Regions from separate parts of the Homo sapiens genome. Here region 2 is linked to region 1. A link means that fine-mapping ties the variant in region 1 to the expression of a gene that starts in the linked region. Tissue or cell type: whole blood. Region 1 holds a variant in brackets; the other region holds the start of a gene. All regions are shown on one strand. Distances are between the middles of the regions.

The links. PIP is the estimated chance that this variant, and not a neighbour inherited with it, causes the effect.
Region 2: ZNF787 starts here. The variant in region 1 is fine-mapped to the expression of ZNF787 in whole blood (INTERVAL, PIP above 0.99).

The regions. Positions count from the first base shown.
Region 1 is chr19:56,083,299-56,091,399 of GRCh38, reverse strand. ZNF787 (zinc finger protein 787) reads left to right here. Exons shown (of 3, transcript NM_001002836.4): 3 at 2,308-4,034. The coding sequence ends at 3,377. Among named protein-coding and RNA genes, the nearest start is that of LINC01864, 21 kb to the right of the region's middle. RefSeq lists enhancers at 1-181, 311-480, 4,453-5,052, 5,388-5,887, 5,888-6,389. The variant T/C (reference allele first, on the strand shown) is at 3,703.
Region 2 is chr19:56,116,703-56,124,803 of GRCh38, reverse strand. ZNF787 (zinc finger protein 787) reads left to right here and starts at 3,509. Exons shown (of 3, transcript NM_001002836.4): 1 at 3,509-3,632. It overlaps LOC124904772 (a long non-coding RNA gene), which reads right to left and starts at 3,194. Exons shown (of 2, transcript XR_007067348.1): 1 at 2,872-3,194; 2 at 259-1,284. RefSeq lists silencers at 3,013-3,382, 3,473-3,592, 3,603-3,682, 3,973-4,292, 4,373-4,422 and enhancers at 3,027-3,742, 4,170-4,464, 6,700-6,869, 6,609-7,324.

The DNA.
Region 1 (8,101 bases):
CTGCCACTGTGTCACAAGTTTTGTGTTCAGAATTCATGTCGTCATGAATAAATGCTATTCATAGCTGAGTCACAGGGAGCATTGCTACACTTTCTTTCTTCACAGCTTCGAAAACAAAGCAGTTATTTTAATTAAAGGCGTAGAAGCACTTGTAAGGTTCAGATAGTATGGCTCGGTTTACGGTGACAACAAATCTCTTTCCTGCCCGTCCCTTTCTGTCCCCTTCAGTCACACTGCCCCGGGGCAAATAGCTTCTGATGTTTGTTTTTAATTCTCTCTACATCTTTAAGTAATGTGCTTATAACTTACAACATTTTTTGATTTATGTTGACAACGCAGTGGGCTCCATGCCATCTCTCCAGAAGGCTCCCCCCTTCCTGACTTCACCTGGAGTGTTTTCTTCTGCCGCAGGTTCAAGAGCCATATTCGAATACTCTCTGCCTTGGAATAGTGATTCTCACACTGGAGCTGGCATCAGAATCACCTGGGGGGCTTGCTGAAGCACAGGCCCGGCCCGGCACTTTCTCATACAGTGCGTCTGGAGGGAGGCCTGAGCATAAGCGTTTTTGTTTTGTTTTGAGATGGAGTCTTGCTCTGTCGCCCAGGCTGGAATGCAGTGGTGTGATCTCAGCTCACTGCAACCTCTGCCTCCCGGGTTCAAGTCATTCTCCTGCCTCAGCCTTCCAAGTAGCTGGGACTACAGGCATGCGCCACCACGCCCGGCTAATTTTTGTGTTTTTAGTAGAGATGGGGTTTTGCCATGTTGGCCAGGATAGTCTTGAACTCCTGACCTCAAGTGATCTGCCCACCTCGGCCTCCTAAAGTGCTGGGATTACAGGCGTGAGCCACCGCTCCGGGCAGTGCATAAATGTTTTTAATATGTTCTCTGTGGCGCCGATGCTACTGGTCGCAGGATCCCACTTTGTGGAGCACTCCCTTAGCGTGTAGGGTGTGCTGCCTGTGGGTGGGGGATTTAGCGGTGGGCGGCCGCAGTTAGTGGTAGATGGCTGTTTCTTGGACCCAGTCTACTAATGCGCTTCTGGGCATTGCCACTTTGTAGTCGTGTAGCTGTGGGCTGTGACTCGACTCCCTAGTGCCTCAGTTTCTCCCTTGTAAAGGCTCAGTTTTGTGCTCCCAGCTTATGAGGACCTGACGCTGAAGTGTGTAGCGCAGGGGGGCGTCATGGCCCTTCCTTGCGTGTTTGCCAGCGTGGCATCTGGGAGGGTGTTTGGGCTCTGTGTGCTGGGCACCACCGTGCCAGGTGTTGGGATAGAGACTTAGGAGCTTACAGTCTAGTAAGGTCAGGAGTGAGAACGTTGTAATTGTGATTCATGGCTTTGAAAAAACCCTGTGGGGTGCACCTGGGGTGTCCACGGGGGTCAGAGATGCACTTGCTGAGGCCCTCCCACCTGATTCTGTTGCTCTGGACCAGGCCCCAAGGGAGAGCAAATGTAGAAGCTGCACACGGACCCTTCTCAGGAGTGAATGAGCTGGGGAGGAGGCAAGCCCATCCCTCCCGGGAGAGCCCCCAGGGGCAGGCCTGGTGCAGAAGTGTGAAAGGCCTCGTTGACTGCTGGAAGGGCGTCCTCAGTGTAAAGATGTGCAGGCAAAGCCCTGTGTGCCCGAATTGTCCTCACTGAGCAGACAGGAGCCCCCACACCAGGGGCTGACCATAGCCTCTGTAATGGAGGTGGCGTTGAGCCAGGTTTTACTCCCAGGTTCGGAGGTGGGGCTTTCATGCTCATCTCCAATCCCATTACCTGTCTGCAGCCAGGATTGTCTTCCTGGAGCCCGAATGTGACACCATCGCTCCCTGGCGGGCACGTCTTCAGGGTGCCAAACCCACTCCCTGGCTCAGGACCAGGTGTCCAGGGCTGCATTCAAGCCCTGCGGCCCCTCTGCCTAGTGGAACCTTTGCCCGTGAGCCTTCCTCATCCTCTGCCCCCGGCGTCCAGGCTGGTGTTTTGGGTTTCGGGGTCCTTTTCTGGGAGCCTTCCGTGGATCCCGCCCCTCGCCCATGCCTCTTATGTTGCCTGGTTGTTTACAGACCAGGCCTTCTGTGTCTGGGGCATTGTTCTAGAGGTTGGGGGTAAACTGAGGGTCTTAACTCACACAGAGCTGAGGTCTTAGCTGGGGAGAGGGGTAATAAATACTTAGTAAAATGCAGGGAGTGATGCACACTCTGAGGACACCAGGGCAGGTCCTGCGCCAGGGGGAGCGAGGCACCCGAGGCCAGCGTAGCAGCCAAGGCAGGCGTGGAGCCCTTGCCTCTCTTGACTCACCTCCCCCTACCCTCTTGCTTTCCAGTGGACATCCTCATCATGGATGATGACGACGTCCCCAGCTGGCCTCCCACCAAGCTGTCCCCGCCCCAGTCTGCGCCCCCAGCCGGCCCGCCTCCCCGGCCGCGGCCGCCCGCCCCCTACATCTGCAACGAGTGTGGCAAGAGCTTTAGCCACTGGTCCAAGCTGACGCGGCACCAGCGCACGCACACCGGCGAGCGGCCCAACGCCTGCGCCGACTGCGGCAAGACCTTCTCGCAGAGCTCGCACCTGGTGCAGCACCGGCGCATCCACACGGGCGAGAAGCCCTACGCCTGCTTGGAGTGCGGCAAGCGCTTCAGCTGGAGCTCCAACCTCATGCAGCACCAGCGCATCCACACGGGCGAGAAGCCCTACACCTGCCCCGACTGCGGCCGCAGCTTCACTCAGAGCAAGAGCCTGGCCAAGCACCGGCGCTCGCACAGCGGCCTCAAGCCCTTCGTGTGCCCGCGCTGCGGCCGCGGCTTCAGCCAGCCCAAGAGCCTCGCGCGTCACCTGCGGCTGCACCCGGAGCTGTCGGGGCCTGGCGTGGCGGCCAAGGTGCTGGCGGCTAGCGTCCGGCGGGCCAAGGGGCCCGAAGAGGCGGTGGCGGCGGACGGCGAGATCGCCATCCCCGTGGGCGATGGCGAGGGCATCATCGTGGTGGGCGCGCCGGGCGAGGGGGCCGCGGCCGCGGCAGCCATGGCGGGCGCGGGGGCAAAGGCCGCGGGGCCCCGGTCGCGGCGCGCCCCGGCCCCCAAGCCGTACGTGTGTCTGGAGTGCGGGAAGGGCTTCGGGCACGGGGCCGGGCTCCTGGCGCACCAGCGGGCCCAGCACGGGGACGGGCTCGGGGCGGCGGGGGGCGAGGAGCCGGCCCACATCTGCGTGGAGTGCGGGGAGGGCTTCGTGCAGGGCGCCGCGCTCCGGAGACACAAGAAGATCCACGCGGTGGGCGCGCCCTCGGTCTGCAGCAGCTGCGGACAGAGCTACTACCGCGCGGGCGGGGAGGAGGAGGACGACGACGACGAGGCCGCGGGCGGGCGGTGCCCCGAGTGCCGCGGTGGGGAGGGCCGGTAGGGGAGGGGCCCGGGGGGGGGGGCGGGCAGGGCCCCTCGGGCTTGGCGGGAGCGACGACGTGCAAGACCAAGAGACCCAGGGAGAAGCGGACGGGGTGCGATGGACCCCGCGGCATCCCCGGCTCCCCGCCCTCCTCTGTCCCTGCGCCGTCCGTGGGGGGGCACTGGGGCGTATTAGGGCCCGTTCACTTCTCCGCCTCGAGACTCTGCCCCCTCAGCCTGGCCCGCCCTTCCTAAGTTATCGGCCTGCGAGCCGGAGAGACAATGGAGAGAACTGCAGAGGCCGAGTGGCGACCAGGCCCCAAGCGGAAGGCCATTTTCCCTGC[T/C]CTTCCTCAGTTGTCCGGGGCGGGGGTGGGGGGTGCTGCGAGGAATGGAGAAACCAGGCCCTTTAGAGGATCCCAGAGAGGGAAGAGAACCAGGGGCCCTTTTCTCTTTTAGAATTTTCTTTTAATCAGCCCACCTTTTGACTCCCCGCCCGCCCCAATCCATTATTTTTTTCTGCCTTCCGGGTCCCATCCTTAGAGCTCGAGTCGTTCCTTCCCCTCCTGGATTCCGGGTAGCAGAGGCAGCGCCGCAGGAGGCGGGTGCCCGTTTGTCCCAGGCCTGGGCGTGGTGGAGGAAGGGGTGCTGGAACAATAAACGGCACTATCCAAATGTCCCCCTCTGCGTGGTTCTTGAGTCCGGGAGGGAGAAGGGCAAGAGGGGTAAACGGAGGCTCTCGCCGGGGCATCAGCAGAGCGTCAGCCGCGCCCCGGGAGTGGCCCGTTGGGTCGCCCGCGGAGGGCTCTAGGCAGGGGGGCCTGTCCGCGGATATCCTCACTATGGTGCGGGCACTCACAGGGCCTGGGAGCTGCTTGTAGATGGGGCAGGGCGGACTGGTCAGGGCCAGGCCTGCCCGCTGCAGGGGAAGGAGCCCCCACGGCTTCTACCACCCTCTCACAGGGGCGGCTGGCTTCCTCCACTCCTATCGTGTGGCCCCCGCCCCTAACCCCAAAAGCACCCTCCTCCTGCCTCCAGCTTCTGGGGGAGACTCTGACTGCAAAGGGCGCACGTCCCCCTACCTGGGTCGTTCACGGGGCTGGTCCCGTGGTTGCGGCTCCCTGCGAAGGAGGCTGGGAGATGAGGTCCCGGCGGCTGCCGCTCCGGGGACAGGACCCCCCGCCCCCTACGGGAGGAGGATGGTGCGCTCAGCTGTCTCTGCTGCAGGGGCCAGGCAGACGAGCCAGCCAGGGGCTGGGGGAGAGGGCGGGTATGCCACAGTCCAGCCGAGCGCTTAGGGCATTTCAGGCAGTGCGCGTGCCCGAGGGGCTTGGTCCGGTAGAGCCGCTGCAGCCGCCCTGCCAGGTGAGCGCTGTTGTTCATGATCAGAAGGGGGCTCGACCATGGCGACTGGTTTCCTGGACCCACAGCCCAGGTCCTGAGGACCCATGTTCCTGGGGCCTTGGGAGGCCGCAGTGAGGGTCCCAAAGGGGTATTTTCAACCTGGCTGAAGGCTGCGATTACTCAGGAGCGATTGGAGGCGGCAAGCTGCAGGCGTCTTTGACTTGGGGGTTTCATAGTAGAGGGGGACTTGAAGGAGAAATTCGGATTTCCAGTTAGAGCCCTTAATCTGCCCTTTCACACCCTGATGTGCTTGAGGAGGGTCCTGGGGCCTCATCTGGAGGCAGGGGGTTTAGAAACCAGGGCCACTGATGGTCTACAGATCCTGGAGGATTTGTTAGAGGACTAGGGAGTGATTGTGGATCAAAAAAGCGTGTTCTCAAGTGGCCAGAGCCTTGCTTAGATAATTGGTATTGCATGTCAGTTTTTGAAATTTCAGGTCACTCGAAAGGAGGGGGTGAACCTTGGCAGTTCAGAGTGGGCTGGGTTAGCAAAGACTGAGGAAGCATTGCTCACTTCTCCTAGGGTCCTTCTGTGGAGCTCTGGCCTTGGGCACTTCTGGAGGCCTGGGAGGATGGGAGGTGCCCTGTCTGGTAGAATTGGCAGCTCGGTGCCCCATAAGTCGGGCACACTGAGTCTCGGGTCAGCCTCTTCTACCTGCTCCAGTATATGGTGGCAGGAGCTGACACCTATAGCAAGAAAGATTCAGGGCAAGTTTCCACCCTGCCCCTTAAGGCTGTGTGACCCTGGGCAAGTGGACTAACCTCTCTGACCCTTGGCTTCCTGCCCTGTGGAAAGGAGAGCTTGCCTGCCTGCCTTGTATGACTGTGTGTGGAGGGGGGAATCCCCAAGCCATGTGTTAACTCACTGGAGCTGCCCTCCCAGGCATGAGCAAAGATGCAGGGGCGAGGAGCCAGGCTCAAATCCCAGCTCTGCACTACTCATCCCACTTTGTAATACAGAACTGAGCGAGCTCACATGACCACCTTGACATCAGCCTGCACCGGACCCAACACCTGACCTGTGCTTTGGTGTCACACGCTGTCCGTTACTGATTCATGCACTCAGGTAGTCATTGCCCACCCCTCACTCACTCATTCTACAAATGTGTTTTGGGCAGCAGCTCCGTGCCCAGTAGGCACGGCGTGGGTCCCAGGTAAAGAAAGGAACATGGGTTCTTGTGGCACTTGCCGTCGGCCCTGTAGTTCACCTGCATTGGAGCTGCTCACCCACGGCAAGGTGAGGCTAGGCGGCCGCTCCATGCTCACAAACCCACCCTGGCAGTGACCGCAGAAGTTCCTTCGGCCCCCATTCCTCTCATGCTCACTTTGGTGGAGGGCACGCCCAGACTCGTTCACGCCCCTTACGGAGTCCAGTCCTCACAAAGGCCCTGTGTGGTTGCCATCATTCCTCGGCTGCTGCTGCTGAAGCTGGTACGAGGAGAGGAAGCAGCCTGCCCAGGCTACTGGTTTGTAAAGTGGTAGAACCTTAATCTGGATCTAAAGTCCTGACACCCATGCCCCCCACCCCCGGCCCCCTGCTGAGTTGATAATCCACTTAATCTTAGGTGTTTATCGGGCACTTCTTTCCTGTGAGGGACTCTGCTAAGCATGGGGGCACAGCAGTGACCTCAACAGGCACAAATCTCTGCTGTCATGGGGGCTGGGAGGGGATACACACAGCTAAGGGCTGAAGGGACAAAAAGAGGCTCTCAGGAGGCAGGAGGTGGAGGAGTCCTGGGCAGGGGGCAGGTGTGACAGGCAATCCCAGGGGGAGTGAGGGCCAGACAGGTGAGTGGAAAGGGACCCTCCACCCAGCTTACTCCCCAGCCTGAAGGCAGTGTTGATCTGGAAATGATTTTATTCCATACAGCCCCGTTTCCCTAAGGGTAGCCTGGAGAGTGTAGGTTCCAGGGAATATTGTTAAGATGTTTGGAGAAAACAGGATCTTGTATTCAAATAACCTGGGAAAATGCTGGATTCAAGTTTTCTTTTTTTTTTTTTTTGAGACGGAGTTTCGCTGTGTCACCCAGGCTGGAGTGCAGTGGTGCAATCTGGACTCACTGCAACCTCTGCCTCCTGGGTTCAAGCAATTCTGTCTCAGCCTCCCAAGTAGCTGGGAATACAGGCACCCAGCACCACACCCGGCTCACTTTTGTATTTTTAGTAGAGATGGGGTTTCACCATATTGGTCAGGCTCATCTTGAACTCCTGACCTCAAGTAGTCCACCCACCTTGGCCTCCCAAAGTGCAGGGATTACAGGTGTGAGCCACTGCACCCTGCCGGATTGAAATTTTCTCATACACAGAACAGTACTTGGCAGGTGGAAGGTGCTGAGCCAAGATTTAGTCGACTGGATGAATTATAAAACTAGCCCCCCACACCCACCCGGCTCAGAACTTTCCACTATGATTCTGTATACCCGGGTGGGGCTGGGGGCCAGGGCAGGGGTAGGTGAAAACATGCAGCATTTTCTGAACTTGTTCTGTCAGAAAACCTTCCATTTATAGAGCATCTTGGGCTGGTGTACTCCAGGCCATCCTTAGAGAAGTGCATGCATGTGAATTGTGTGTGTCTCTGCATGTATGAATGCATGTCTGTGTGGATGGTGCATCTGTATCTTTGTGCATATGTATGTCTGTGCGCATGTGGGTATGTGTGTGTCTGTGGTATACATCCACCCTCCTTCCCCTCATATCTACCACTCAAAGAGGCTGTGGGTGGGGACGGAGTTGCCTCTGGCACCATTGATTTTGCCTCCTCTCCTGCCTTGATGGACAAGTCTATCCAGAAATTCCCTATTTTCTGGCGCCGGTCTTTCAGCACCATGGACAGAGATTCCCCCCCCCCCCCCACCCCACCCCCCACCCCCACCCCCACAGCTGAGTCTGGGATGATGGAGCTCAGTTTAATCCATACGCGTTCCCTTTTAACGCCTCCCGATCAGTTCGAAGAGGGTATTGTTCCTATTTTACAGATAAGGGAACAGAGGCTTTGGGGAGGTTAAATAGTCCTCCAGGCTCTCACAGCTGATAAGTAGCAGAGCTTAATAGTCAGAATCTAATGCCAACACTTAGATCAGTCTATCTGTACCTTATGGGATGCTTGTGAAGTGGGGTGGCCACTAGCCATGACAGCAAGTAGACTGTGGACGGACAGCCTCATTCAGGCTGGTGGGGACTCTGGCAGGGGGATTTGGATCAGCAATTGATGTTTGGTCACAAATAAGATTTTTTTAAAAAAAGTAATGGATACTTTGAGGAAGAGATTACTTACCAAATCTCAACTCCCAAATTCCTCATTCTTCTTCCTGCATTATCCCTTGAAATACTCAGTGAATCTACA
Region 2 (8,101 bases), 33 kb before region 1:
CATCTTGCAAAACCGAAACTCTGTCTCCAATAAACACTAACACCCCATTCCCCTCCCCCCAGCCCCTGGCACCCCCCATTCTACTTCCTGTCTCTATGAATTTGACTTCTCTAGGTCCCTCATATAAGTGGAATCATAAAGTATGTGTTCTTGTGTGACTGGCTTGCTTCTCTTAGCATAATGTCCTCAAGGTTCATCCATGTTGTAGCCTGTGTCAGAATTTTCTCTCTTTTTAAGGCTAAAAAATATTCCATTGTATTTATTTATTTATTTTTATTTTTTGAGACGGAGTCTGGCTCTGTTTACCAGGCTGCAGTGCAGTGGCATGATCTTGGCTCAATGCAGCCTGCGCCTCTGGGTTCAAGTGATTCTCCTGCCTCAGCCTCCCAAGTAGCTGGGACTACAGGCGCCCGCCACCACGCCTGGCTAATTTTTTGTATTTTTAGTAGAGACAGGGTTTCACTATGTTGGCCAGGCTGGTTTCAAACTCTTGACCTCAGGTGATTCGCCCGCCTTGGCCTCCCAAAGTGCTGGGATTACAGATGTGAGCCACCGCGTCTGGTCTATTCCATTGCATTTATGTGCCACATTTTGTTTATTCGCTCATCTGTCAATGGACACTGGGTTGCTTCCACCTCTTGGCTATTGTGAATAATGCTGCTATGAGCATTGGGTGTACAAGTTAGATGTGTATTTCTTGATCATGTAGCAATCTAGGATAGATGTTAGGTGACAGGATGTATTTCCACAAGGTGGTCATTCAGGGACCCAGGTTTCTTGGGGCTCCCCTCTTTCTTTAGGGCCTTGAAAGAGCAGGAAGCAGGCAGATGTTTCTTTTTTTTTTTTGAGATGGAGTCTCACTCTTTTGCCCATACTGAAGTGCAGTGGTGGGATCTCGGCTCACTGCAACCTTTGCCTCCTAGGTTCAAGCAATTCTCCTGCCTCAGCCTCCGGAGTAGCTGGGATTATAAGCGCCCACCACGCCTGGCTAATTTTTGTACTTTTAGTAGAGATGGAGTTTCGCCATGTTGGCCAGGCTGGTCTCGAACTCCTGGACTCAGCTGATCCTCCCGTCTCGGCCTCCCAAAGTGCTGTGATTATAGGCGTGAGCCACCGTGCCTGGCCAACATACATGTTTCTTAAGAGCATTGGCTCGGAAGAGGCCTGTATCGCTTCCATCCCATCCCATTGGTGAGAACCAATCACAAGGCCACACTTAGATGCCAAGAGGAGTGGAAAACAGAATCCATCGATGGGAAGCAGCATCCCAAGAGTGATTTTGTACTGCGGAAGGGAAGAACAGATGTTAATTGTCAATTAAGCCATGTCGGCTGCAACCCATCCCATGTTTGGGAAACATCCTGGTATTGGTTGGGTTGCCTTAAGGGAGAGACTCAGAATTACCAATGGTTTCAGTGAGTTAGAAAGTGATTTCTCTCACATAAAATCTCAGCTGGCACGGAGCCTCTTTCACGAAGCCATCCAGTGTCTAGCTGGCTCCCTGTGTCTTGTTTCTCCTCCATCCTCAGTGTTGGCTTCCATCTGGTGTGCCAATGAGCTGTTCTCGATCTTGCCGTTGTCAATTTGACCAGCGAAGAAGGGGAATGGGCTGGAGAGGGAGGAGGCTGTCCCTCCCAACAACCAGGTCACTGCAGGACACCCACTGAATGATCTGATTCAGAGGAGCACAAGCACATGACTTTTCTTATAAACAGGTTTCCTCGTGTAGAGTTTGTACCCTAATAATTTGTTTCTATTGCTGTTATGATAGCACTTCACTCTCTTTTTTTTTTTTTTTTTTTTGAGACGGAGTCCCATTCCATCGCCCAGGCAAGAGTGCAGTGGTGCGATCTCAGCTCACTGCAACCTCTGCCTCCCAGGTTCAAGCCATTCTCCTGCCTCAGCCTCCCGAGTAGCTGGGATTACAGGTGTCCGCCACCACGCCCAGCTAATTTTTGTATTTTTAATAGATATGGGGTTTCACTATGTTGGCCAGGGTAGTCTCGAATTCCTGACCTCCTGACGTCTGCCTCTGCCTCCCAAAGTGTTGAGATTTACAGGTGTCAGCCACTGCACCCGGCCACACTTCCTTCTGTTCTAAGATATATTTAAAAATTTACCTTTGTGATATTTCTGAAGGAGGGACACAGATATCCTCCTATTGACACACACAGTTAACACAGCACTGTTCACCCCACCCCATGGAAAGATGTTATTAAATCAATAATATACATCTTATGATTGATGCTCACTGAGCTTTGAGGGTATACAGTGGCCACAACAATAGACTTATATGTAACACTGCTAATAGGTAATAATAACCACCATCATTTTTGTGAACTTACTATGGGCCAGGTATTGAACTAAGCAGCTCTTACACATATTACCTTGCAGGTTATCTTATTTTTTCCCATTCCACAGATGAGAAATTGAGGCTGAGAAAGGTGTTATTCCACCAGTGAATTATAGCTTCTTATCTTTTCTGACTACCAGTGAGGATGATAACAATTATAAGCGATAAGTCATCTGCCACTTAGGTGAGAGTCAGCCAAGTACAGAACAGAGGAAGGACCAGAAGGACCAGCCTACAAGGACACTATGGTTTGGACAATTATTTTAAAATATGTGTTTTTTGCAAGAATACCAACAGTAACAGCTAACACCCAGTGCGTCCTTACTAGGTGCCTACCTAACGCGGGGGAAGTAGTGGATTCTCAGGGCTATGACACGAGGCAGTGTGTACAGTCAAGGGTTAAATACACGAATTTAGAGCCAAACTCCATGGGTTCGGGCCGAGGCTCTGGCATTCCGGGTGTGTGACTTTTGGTAGGTGATTTGACTCCTCACCTGCAACATAGGGATAGGACCTACCATGAGGCCCTAGTTAGGACTAGGACCTAGTGCGTGTGAAGCACTTGGAGGCGCACAATGTATTTTCATCACTTCAGAAAGGAGGAAACTGAGGCCATGGCACCTGAAGCGCAGCACTCTCTGTCCAGTAACTAAGGAACCCGGGGTCTCTGTCCAGTAACTAAGGCACCTGGACTCGGGCCACTGGGAGGTGCAGCGGCAGAGAAGGGGTTACCATGATAGAGACGGTAGGAGGACCCGGGGTGGCACGAGCGTCCCTCTCCACCACTTCACTCTCCTCACGGCGGGCCCGGGGACCCGGCCGCGCAGGCGCGAGGAGCCCGGGTTGTCGGGGGGGCACCGCCCTAGACACCCGGAAGTCTCCGCCTAACGGGCCCAGCCCGCACCTCCTGTCCGGGAAGGGGGCGGGGCCGAAGCCCCTCGGCGCGGGGCGCCATAGAGCATGGACGGAGGACCTGCGTCCTAGACACTTCCGGAAGTGGCTCCCTCAGGCGCCCGCCGGGCACCACAGAGCTGGGGGCGGTGGCCGGGATAGCGGGCTCGCCTTCCTAGAGCGGCGAGGACAGGGTGGCGGCCCGGGGGGCAGGGAGTAGGGAGAAGGGGGGGAGCGGCGCGGGCGGAAGCGGCCGGGAAGGTCACTTCCGGCCTGGGCGCCCGTCCCCCTGACCCCAGGGTCTGAGTCGCCGCTGCCGCCGCTGCCACCATCCGCGAGGCAGGAGAGAGGAGGAGGAGTGCGGCGCGGCGGCCCCGGGACCAAGGAGGTGAGGGGTGGGGGCGGGGGCCGTGCGCTGGGGGCCAGGTGGGCGCGCGCTTCGGGAAGCTGGGCTTGGGCTGGGGGTGGGTGGGGAGACTGGAGGGCGAGCGCGACTGGGCGGCGGGCGCGCGTGCGCGCTGCTGGGGGGGCGTGAGTGGGCGCGCGGCCGGGGTGACGCGGGCGGGGGGAGTGCGCGTGCGCGCCGAAGAGCTGTGGGAGGGGACGCGCGCCCGGGCGGCCCGCGGGCGGCGAGCGGGGCTGGAGGGGGGGTGCGCGTGCGCGGGTCCGGGTCCAGGGCGCGCGCGTGCGCGTGGCGGGGGCAGGAGCGGGGGCCTCGGTGGGGGTCCCTCTGCTGCGGGCCGTCGGGGGTGGGGCCGCTGTCCGTCCCCCCGAAGTTCCAACTCCGCCGGTCGTGGCCGGAAGTGGTGGCGACTTCGGGGGGAAGTTGAGGCCCAGGTGGGGGAAGGGGCCGCGCGGTTGGGCTGGCCTGGCCGGATACCGCGGCCCCGAGGGCACGGTCTCAGCCCTCGGCCCCCCCAGCCCTTCCTTCCCCTTTTCGAGTCAGCCCGGGTCCCGTTGCTGCCCCGGGCGGGCTGCGCGTGGCCTTTGATCAGGCGGGTAATTACGGGGATTCTGGCCGGCAGGAGGCCCATTCATTCGTCCTTGCTCGGCAGGCGGGGAGGAAGCGCGTCCCCAGCGGGGGAAGTGACTGGGCCAAGGTCAGCCACCGCGTGGCCCACGGGGCAGGGCGAAGGCGGGGACTGGATCGGGTGGCGACTCCTGAGGCCTCCCTCCCCTGTGCCGAGTGGATCAGAGTGGAGCCCCGCCCTCCTGACACCCCACCCCGACCCCCAGTCCAGGGAGCTGACCCCAATTCATGTGGATGAGTGCTCTGGGACCTGCAGAGTCGCACAGAAAAGTGACCCACAGACACAGAAGGCAGGAGTGAGTGGAGGCAGAAGTTTTTCCAGTGCCAGGCCCTGTGCCGGGCACTAGAGACAGGGAGCAGGGAGATGAACAAGGGCTTGGAGTCTGGGTGGAAGGCAGAGACTGAGACCCGGGCGACAGAGTCGCCATCCAAGGTGACCAGACCCCTGATGGAGAGGTCTGGGGGCTGTGGGAGCCAGGGAAGGCATTTTGACCCAGCCCAGTCCGGGGGATGGTCAGGGCTTTAGGGAAGGAATGGCTTGGTCTGCTCTTTGCGGTGTCCTGCTCCCAGGTCCCATGTTGCGCAGTGCTTAGAACCCATCTGGGGATCCGATTGACCCCAGCGCCGGGAAGCACAGTTGCGTTGATCCTGGCTTAGCTCCTCTGAAGACCGTAAGCCTCTTTGGCTAAACGCTGCTGACATTCACCTGCCTGCCTCTGCGCAGTCCCTGTGGTCCTCCGGCCACGCACGGCCTCAGAGAACATCCAGATCAGATTCCTGCTTGCTTATCTCATGTCTTATCCATCCATCCGGGCACCCGGCCTGGCCCCTCCCTGGTGCACTGCCAGAGTGTGTGCAGGCACTGGGTTGTATTCCCCAAGAGCTCTGGGACTGGGCAGGCCTGGGTTCAAGTCCCAGCCCCACCACTCACCTTCGTGGCCTTAGACGAGTAACTTCAGTGCCTTACTTTCCACCAGGACAGAGTGGGAGTGGTAATAATAGTATTGACCTCAGCGGGAAGGCTCTTAATGCTTTCATTTTAGAGCCAGAGCAGACCTCAACAGATGGGTGTAAAGTAAATGGAAAGGGCTCTGGAGCCAGGCCCTTTCCTGGGCCTTGGCCTTGGCACTGTCTCTTCCACTTCTGTGACCTTGGACATGTCACTTCCCTTTTCCCAGGTTCAATTTCCCTTCAGTTGTCTAAAAACGAGAGCAAGTTCACAATTCCCTGAGTAAATGTAATCCATCCAGGCGGCTGCACAGGCCAGGCCCTGTGCTGGGCATGAGGTCACACATGGTCTTGGCACAGCACTGTCCTGTGAGGGCCCAGATGAGGTGCCTGGCCCAGCCTGGGTGAAGAGAGGGATCTCAAGGCCCTTCTGTGCAAGCACAAGGTAGAGTGGTGCTCCGTGCTGGGCAGCCTGGCAGGAATCATACAGTCCCTGTCCCAGAGCAGCTGAGACCCATTCACACTGGGCAGAGGGGTGGGGAGATTTGCCAGAGTGCTCCCGGGAGCTCTGACCTTGAGGGAGGGGTGTGTGGTGCAGGGGAGGTATTGTGTCTTGAAAGATAGAGAGGAAGGATTGGCTACCAGGAACCTGGTACTTAAGGGAGGATGACAGTGGGCTCTGGGCAGGGAATGGCAGGGGTCACAGCTCAAGGCCACCAGCAACTGCCTGGCTGCCCTGGGAGGTCTTTTGTTACTAGGCATACACAGCTCTCAGGACACCCATCCTCAGACATGTTTCACAGGCCTTTCCAAACCTCGTTCGTGTGTCCTCTGGTGCATCCTGAGGCCTCCAGCCTAGTGAGGACTGTGCCAGGTGCTGGGGCCTCTGTGGTGTGAGAAACTGCAGATTCGACAACACTTGCTGGTGCACACTTTGCAGGAACCTGGCCCAGTGCCTGGTCCTCACTGTCCTAAATTCTCAAGGCTCTGGGATGGAGGTGGTCACCTCCATTTTAGGGGTATGGGATGGAGGCTCTGGATGGCACTTGTTAGCCCAAGGCCCCCAGCAGCTTCAGAACCTGTGTCTACTGCGATTCCAGAGCCCAGACCCTTGACCATCACAACCGCCCCCTTCCGCCCCCAGGTTGGGGTCTAGGGGGACAAAGGCTGTTCCGAAGTCCTCTAGGTGTTAGTCATTGGCTTGGAGACGCTGGACTCCCTGCCTAGTGGGGTGTACTGTCCACGAGGACTCCTACACGCAGGGCTGCTGGCTGGTTCAGGGGAACCCCAGCATAGTGGGAGAAGCACAAGTGGCTCGGAAGTTGAGTGCTGAGATCCATGCAACCCCCAAGGAGGCCTCACTCACCCAGCATCAGGGAGAGCAAGGCAGGTGTGGAGTTCGAGCAGTCACACCTCCAGTGTCAGTGGCCCTGTCCCAGGAGCCCAGAGCTGTCACCTTACAGCTGCAGAGAAACCAGCCCAAGCTCTGAGCCCAGGTGGGGCGGCCCCAGGCCTGTCTGTTCCTGCAAGGGACCTGGCAACTTGAGGCTGTTTTTCGTGACGTTTTCCTGGTTCCGTCTCTGCCGTGGCCTGAGCCTTCTCCCTTTGGGCTCACAGAGTGTGGACGTCTCTCTTGTGCTAAATGGGGGTCCCATCTGGCCCCCCTGTTTCGAGGCCTTGCAGTGGATAGTGTTGGGACCCAGAGATGCATCAGAAGTGGTCCTTGCCTCAGCCCAGGGTCCAGCCAGTCAGAGCCATGGATTCCTGAGGCTGCTGTGTGCAGGGTCTTTGCTGGAAATAGCCCCGCCCTCAAGTGCACAGTCTGCTGGATGCACTGTGGGACTGATGGGGACCTATAGTAGGTGTCGCAGAGGTGAATAAGACACGGAGTAAGACACAGATCCCCCTGCGGGACACAGGACCATCCTCAATGGTGGACGTTAAAGGGGACAAATGCCGTTGTCCAAGAGTTAGAAGGAAGCAAGCTGTCTTTGGCAGCTGGCCGACTCAGGTGTGGCTCCAGCCTCCTACGTTGTGGCTCTGTGACATTGCTCCAGCCACTCCGCTAGTGGAAGCCTCGCTGTGGCTGTGTGAGATTGTACTAGCCACTCCGCTTGTGGAAGCCTCGCTGTGGCTGTGTGAGATTGTACTAGCCACTCCGCTTGTGGAAGCCTCGCTGTGGCTCTGTGAGGTTGTACTAGCCACTCCGCTTGTGGAAGCCTCGCTGTGGCTCTGTGAGGTTGTACTAGCCACTCTGCTTGTGGAAGCCTCGCTGTGGCTCTGTGAGATTGTACTAGCCACTCCGCTTTTGAAAGCCTCGCTGTGGCTCTGTGATACTGTACTAGCCACTCTGCTTGTGGAAGCCTCAGTTTCCTTGTCTATACAACAAGGACCACAGTGATAGGCTGTGTTTACTGGGCATCTCCACGGCTTTTGGGTGAGCACTTGACACACATCTCATTTAATCAGGAGGGACGGGTAGCCCAAGCACCTTGCCCAGGTCATGTGGCTGGTTCCTGGGGGGCCAGATCCCACCCTGCCCTGCCCAGAACGGCTGTCCTCTTGTCCCTGTGCTGGCCTCATGGCCTCGCACTGTCTCCCACTGATTGTGGGGCCCAGGATCAGAGCTTATGTGCTTAGGGCACCCTGCACCCAGGACCTGGGATTTAATCCGTGCTTGATGAGTGTGATCTTTTGTCGCTGGATAAGAGAGGATAGAGCTGAGGGAAGGGAGCAGTCTGGGAAAGCTTCCTGGGGGAGGTGCTGTTGATGCTGAGCCGTGGCAGATGGGCTAAGCAGATGTATACTGAGAGGGCAGGTGAGGTGGGAGGAAGGGACTGTGCAAAGGCCCCGGGGGAGAATCCACACCATCTGGAAAA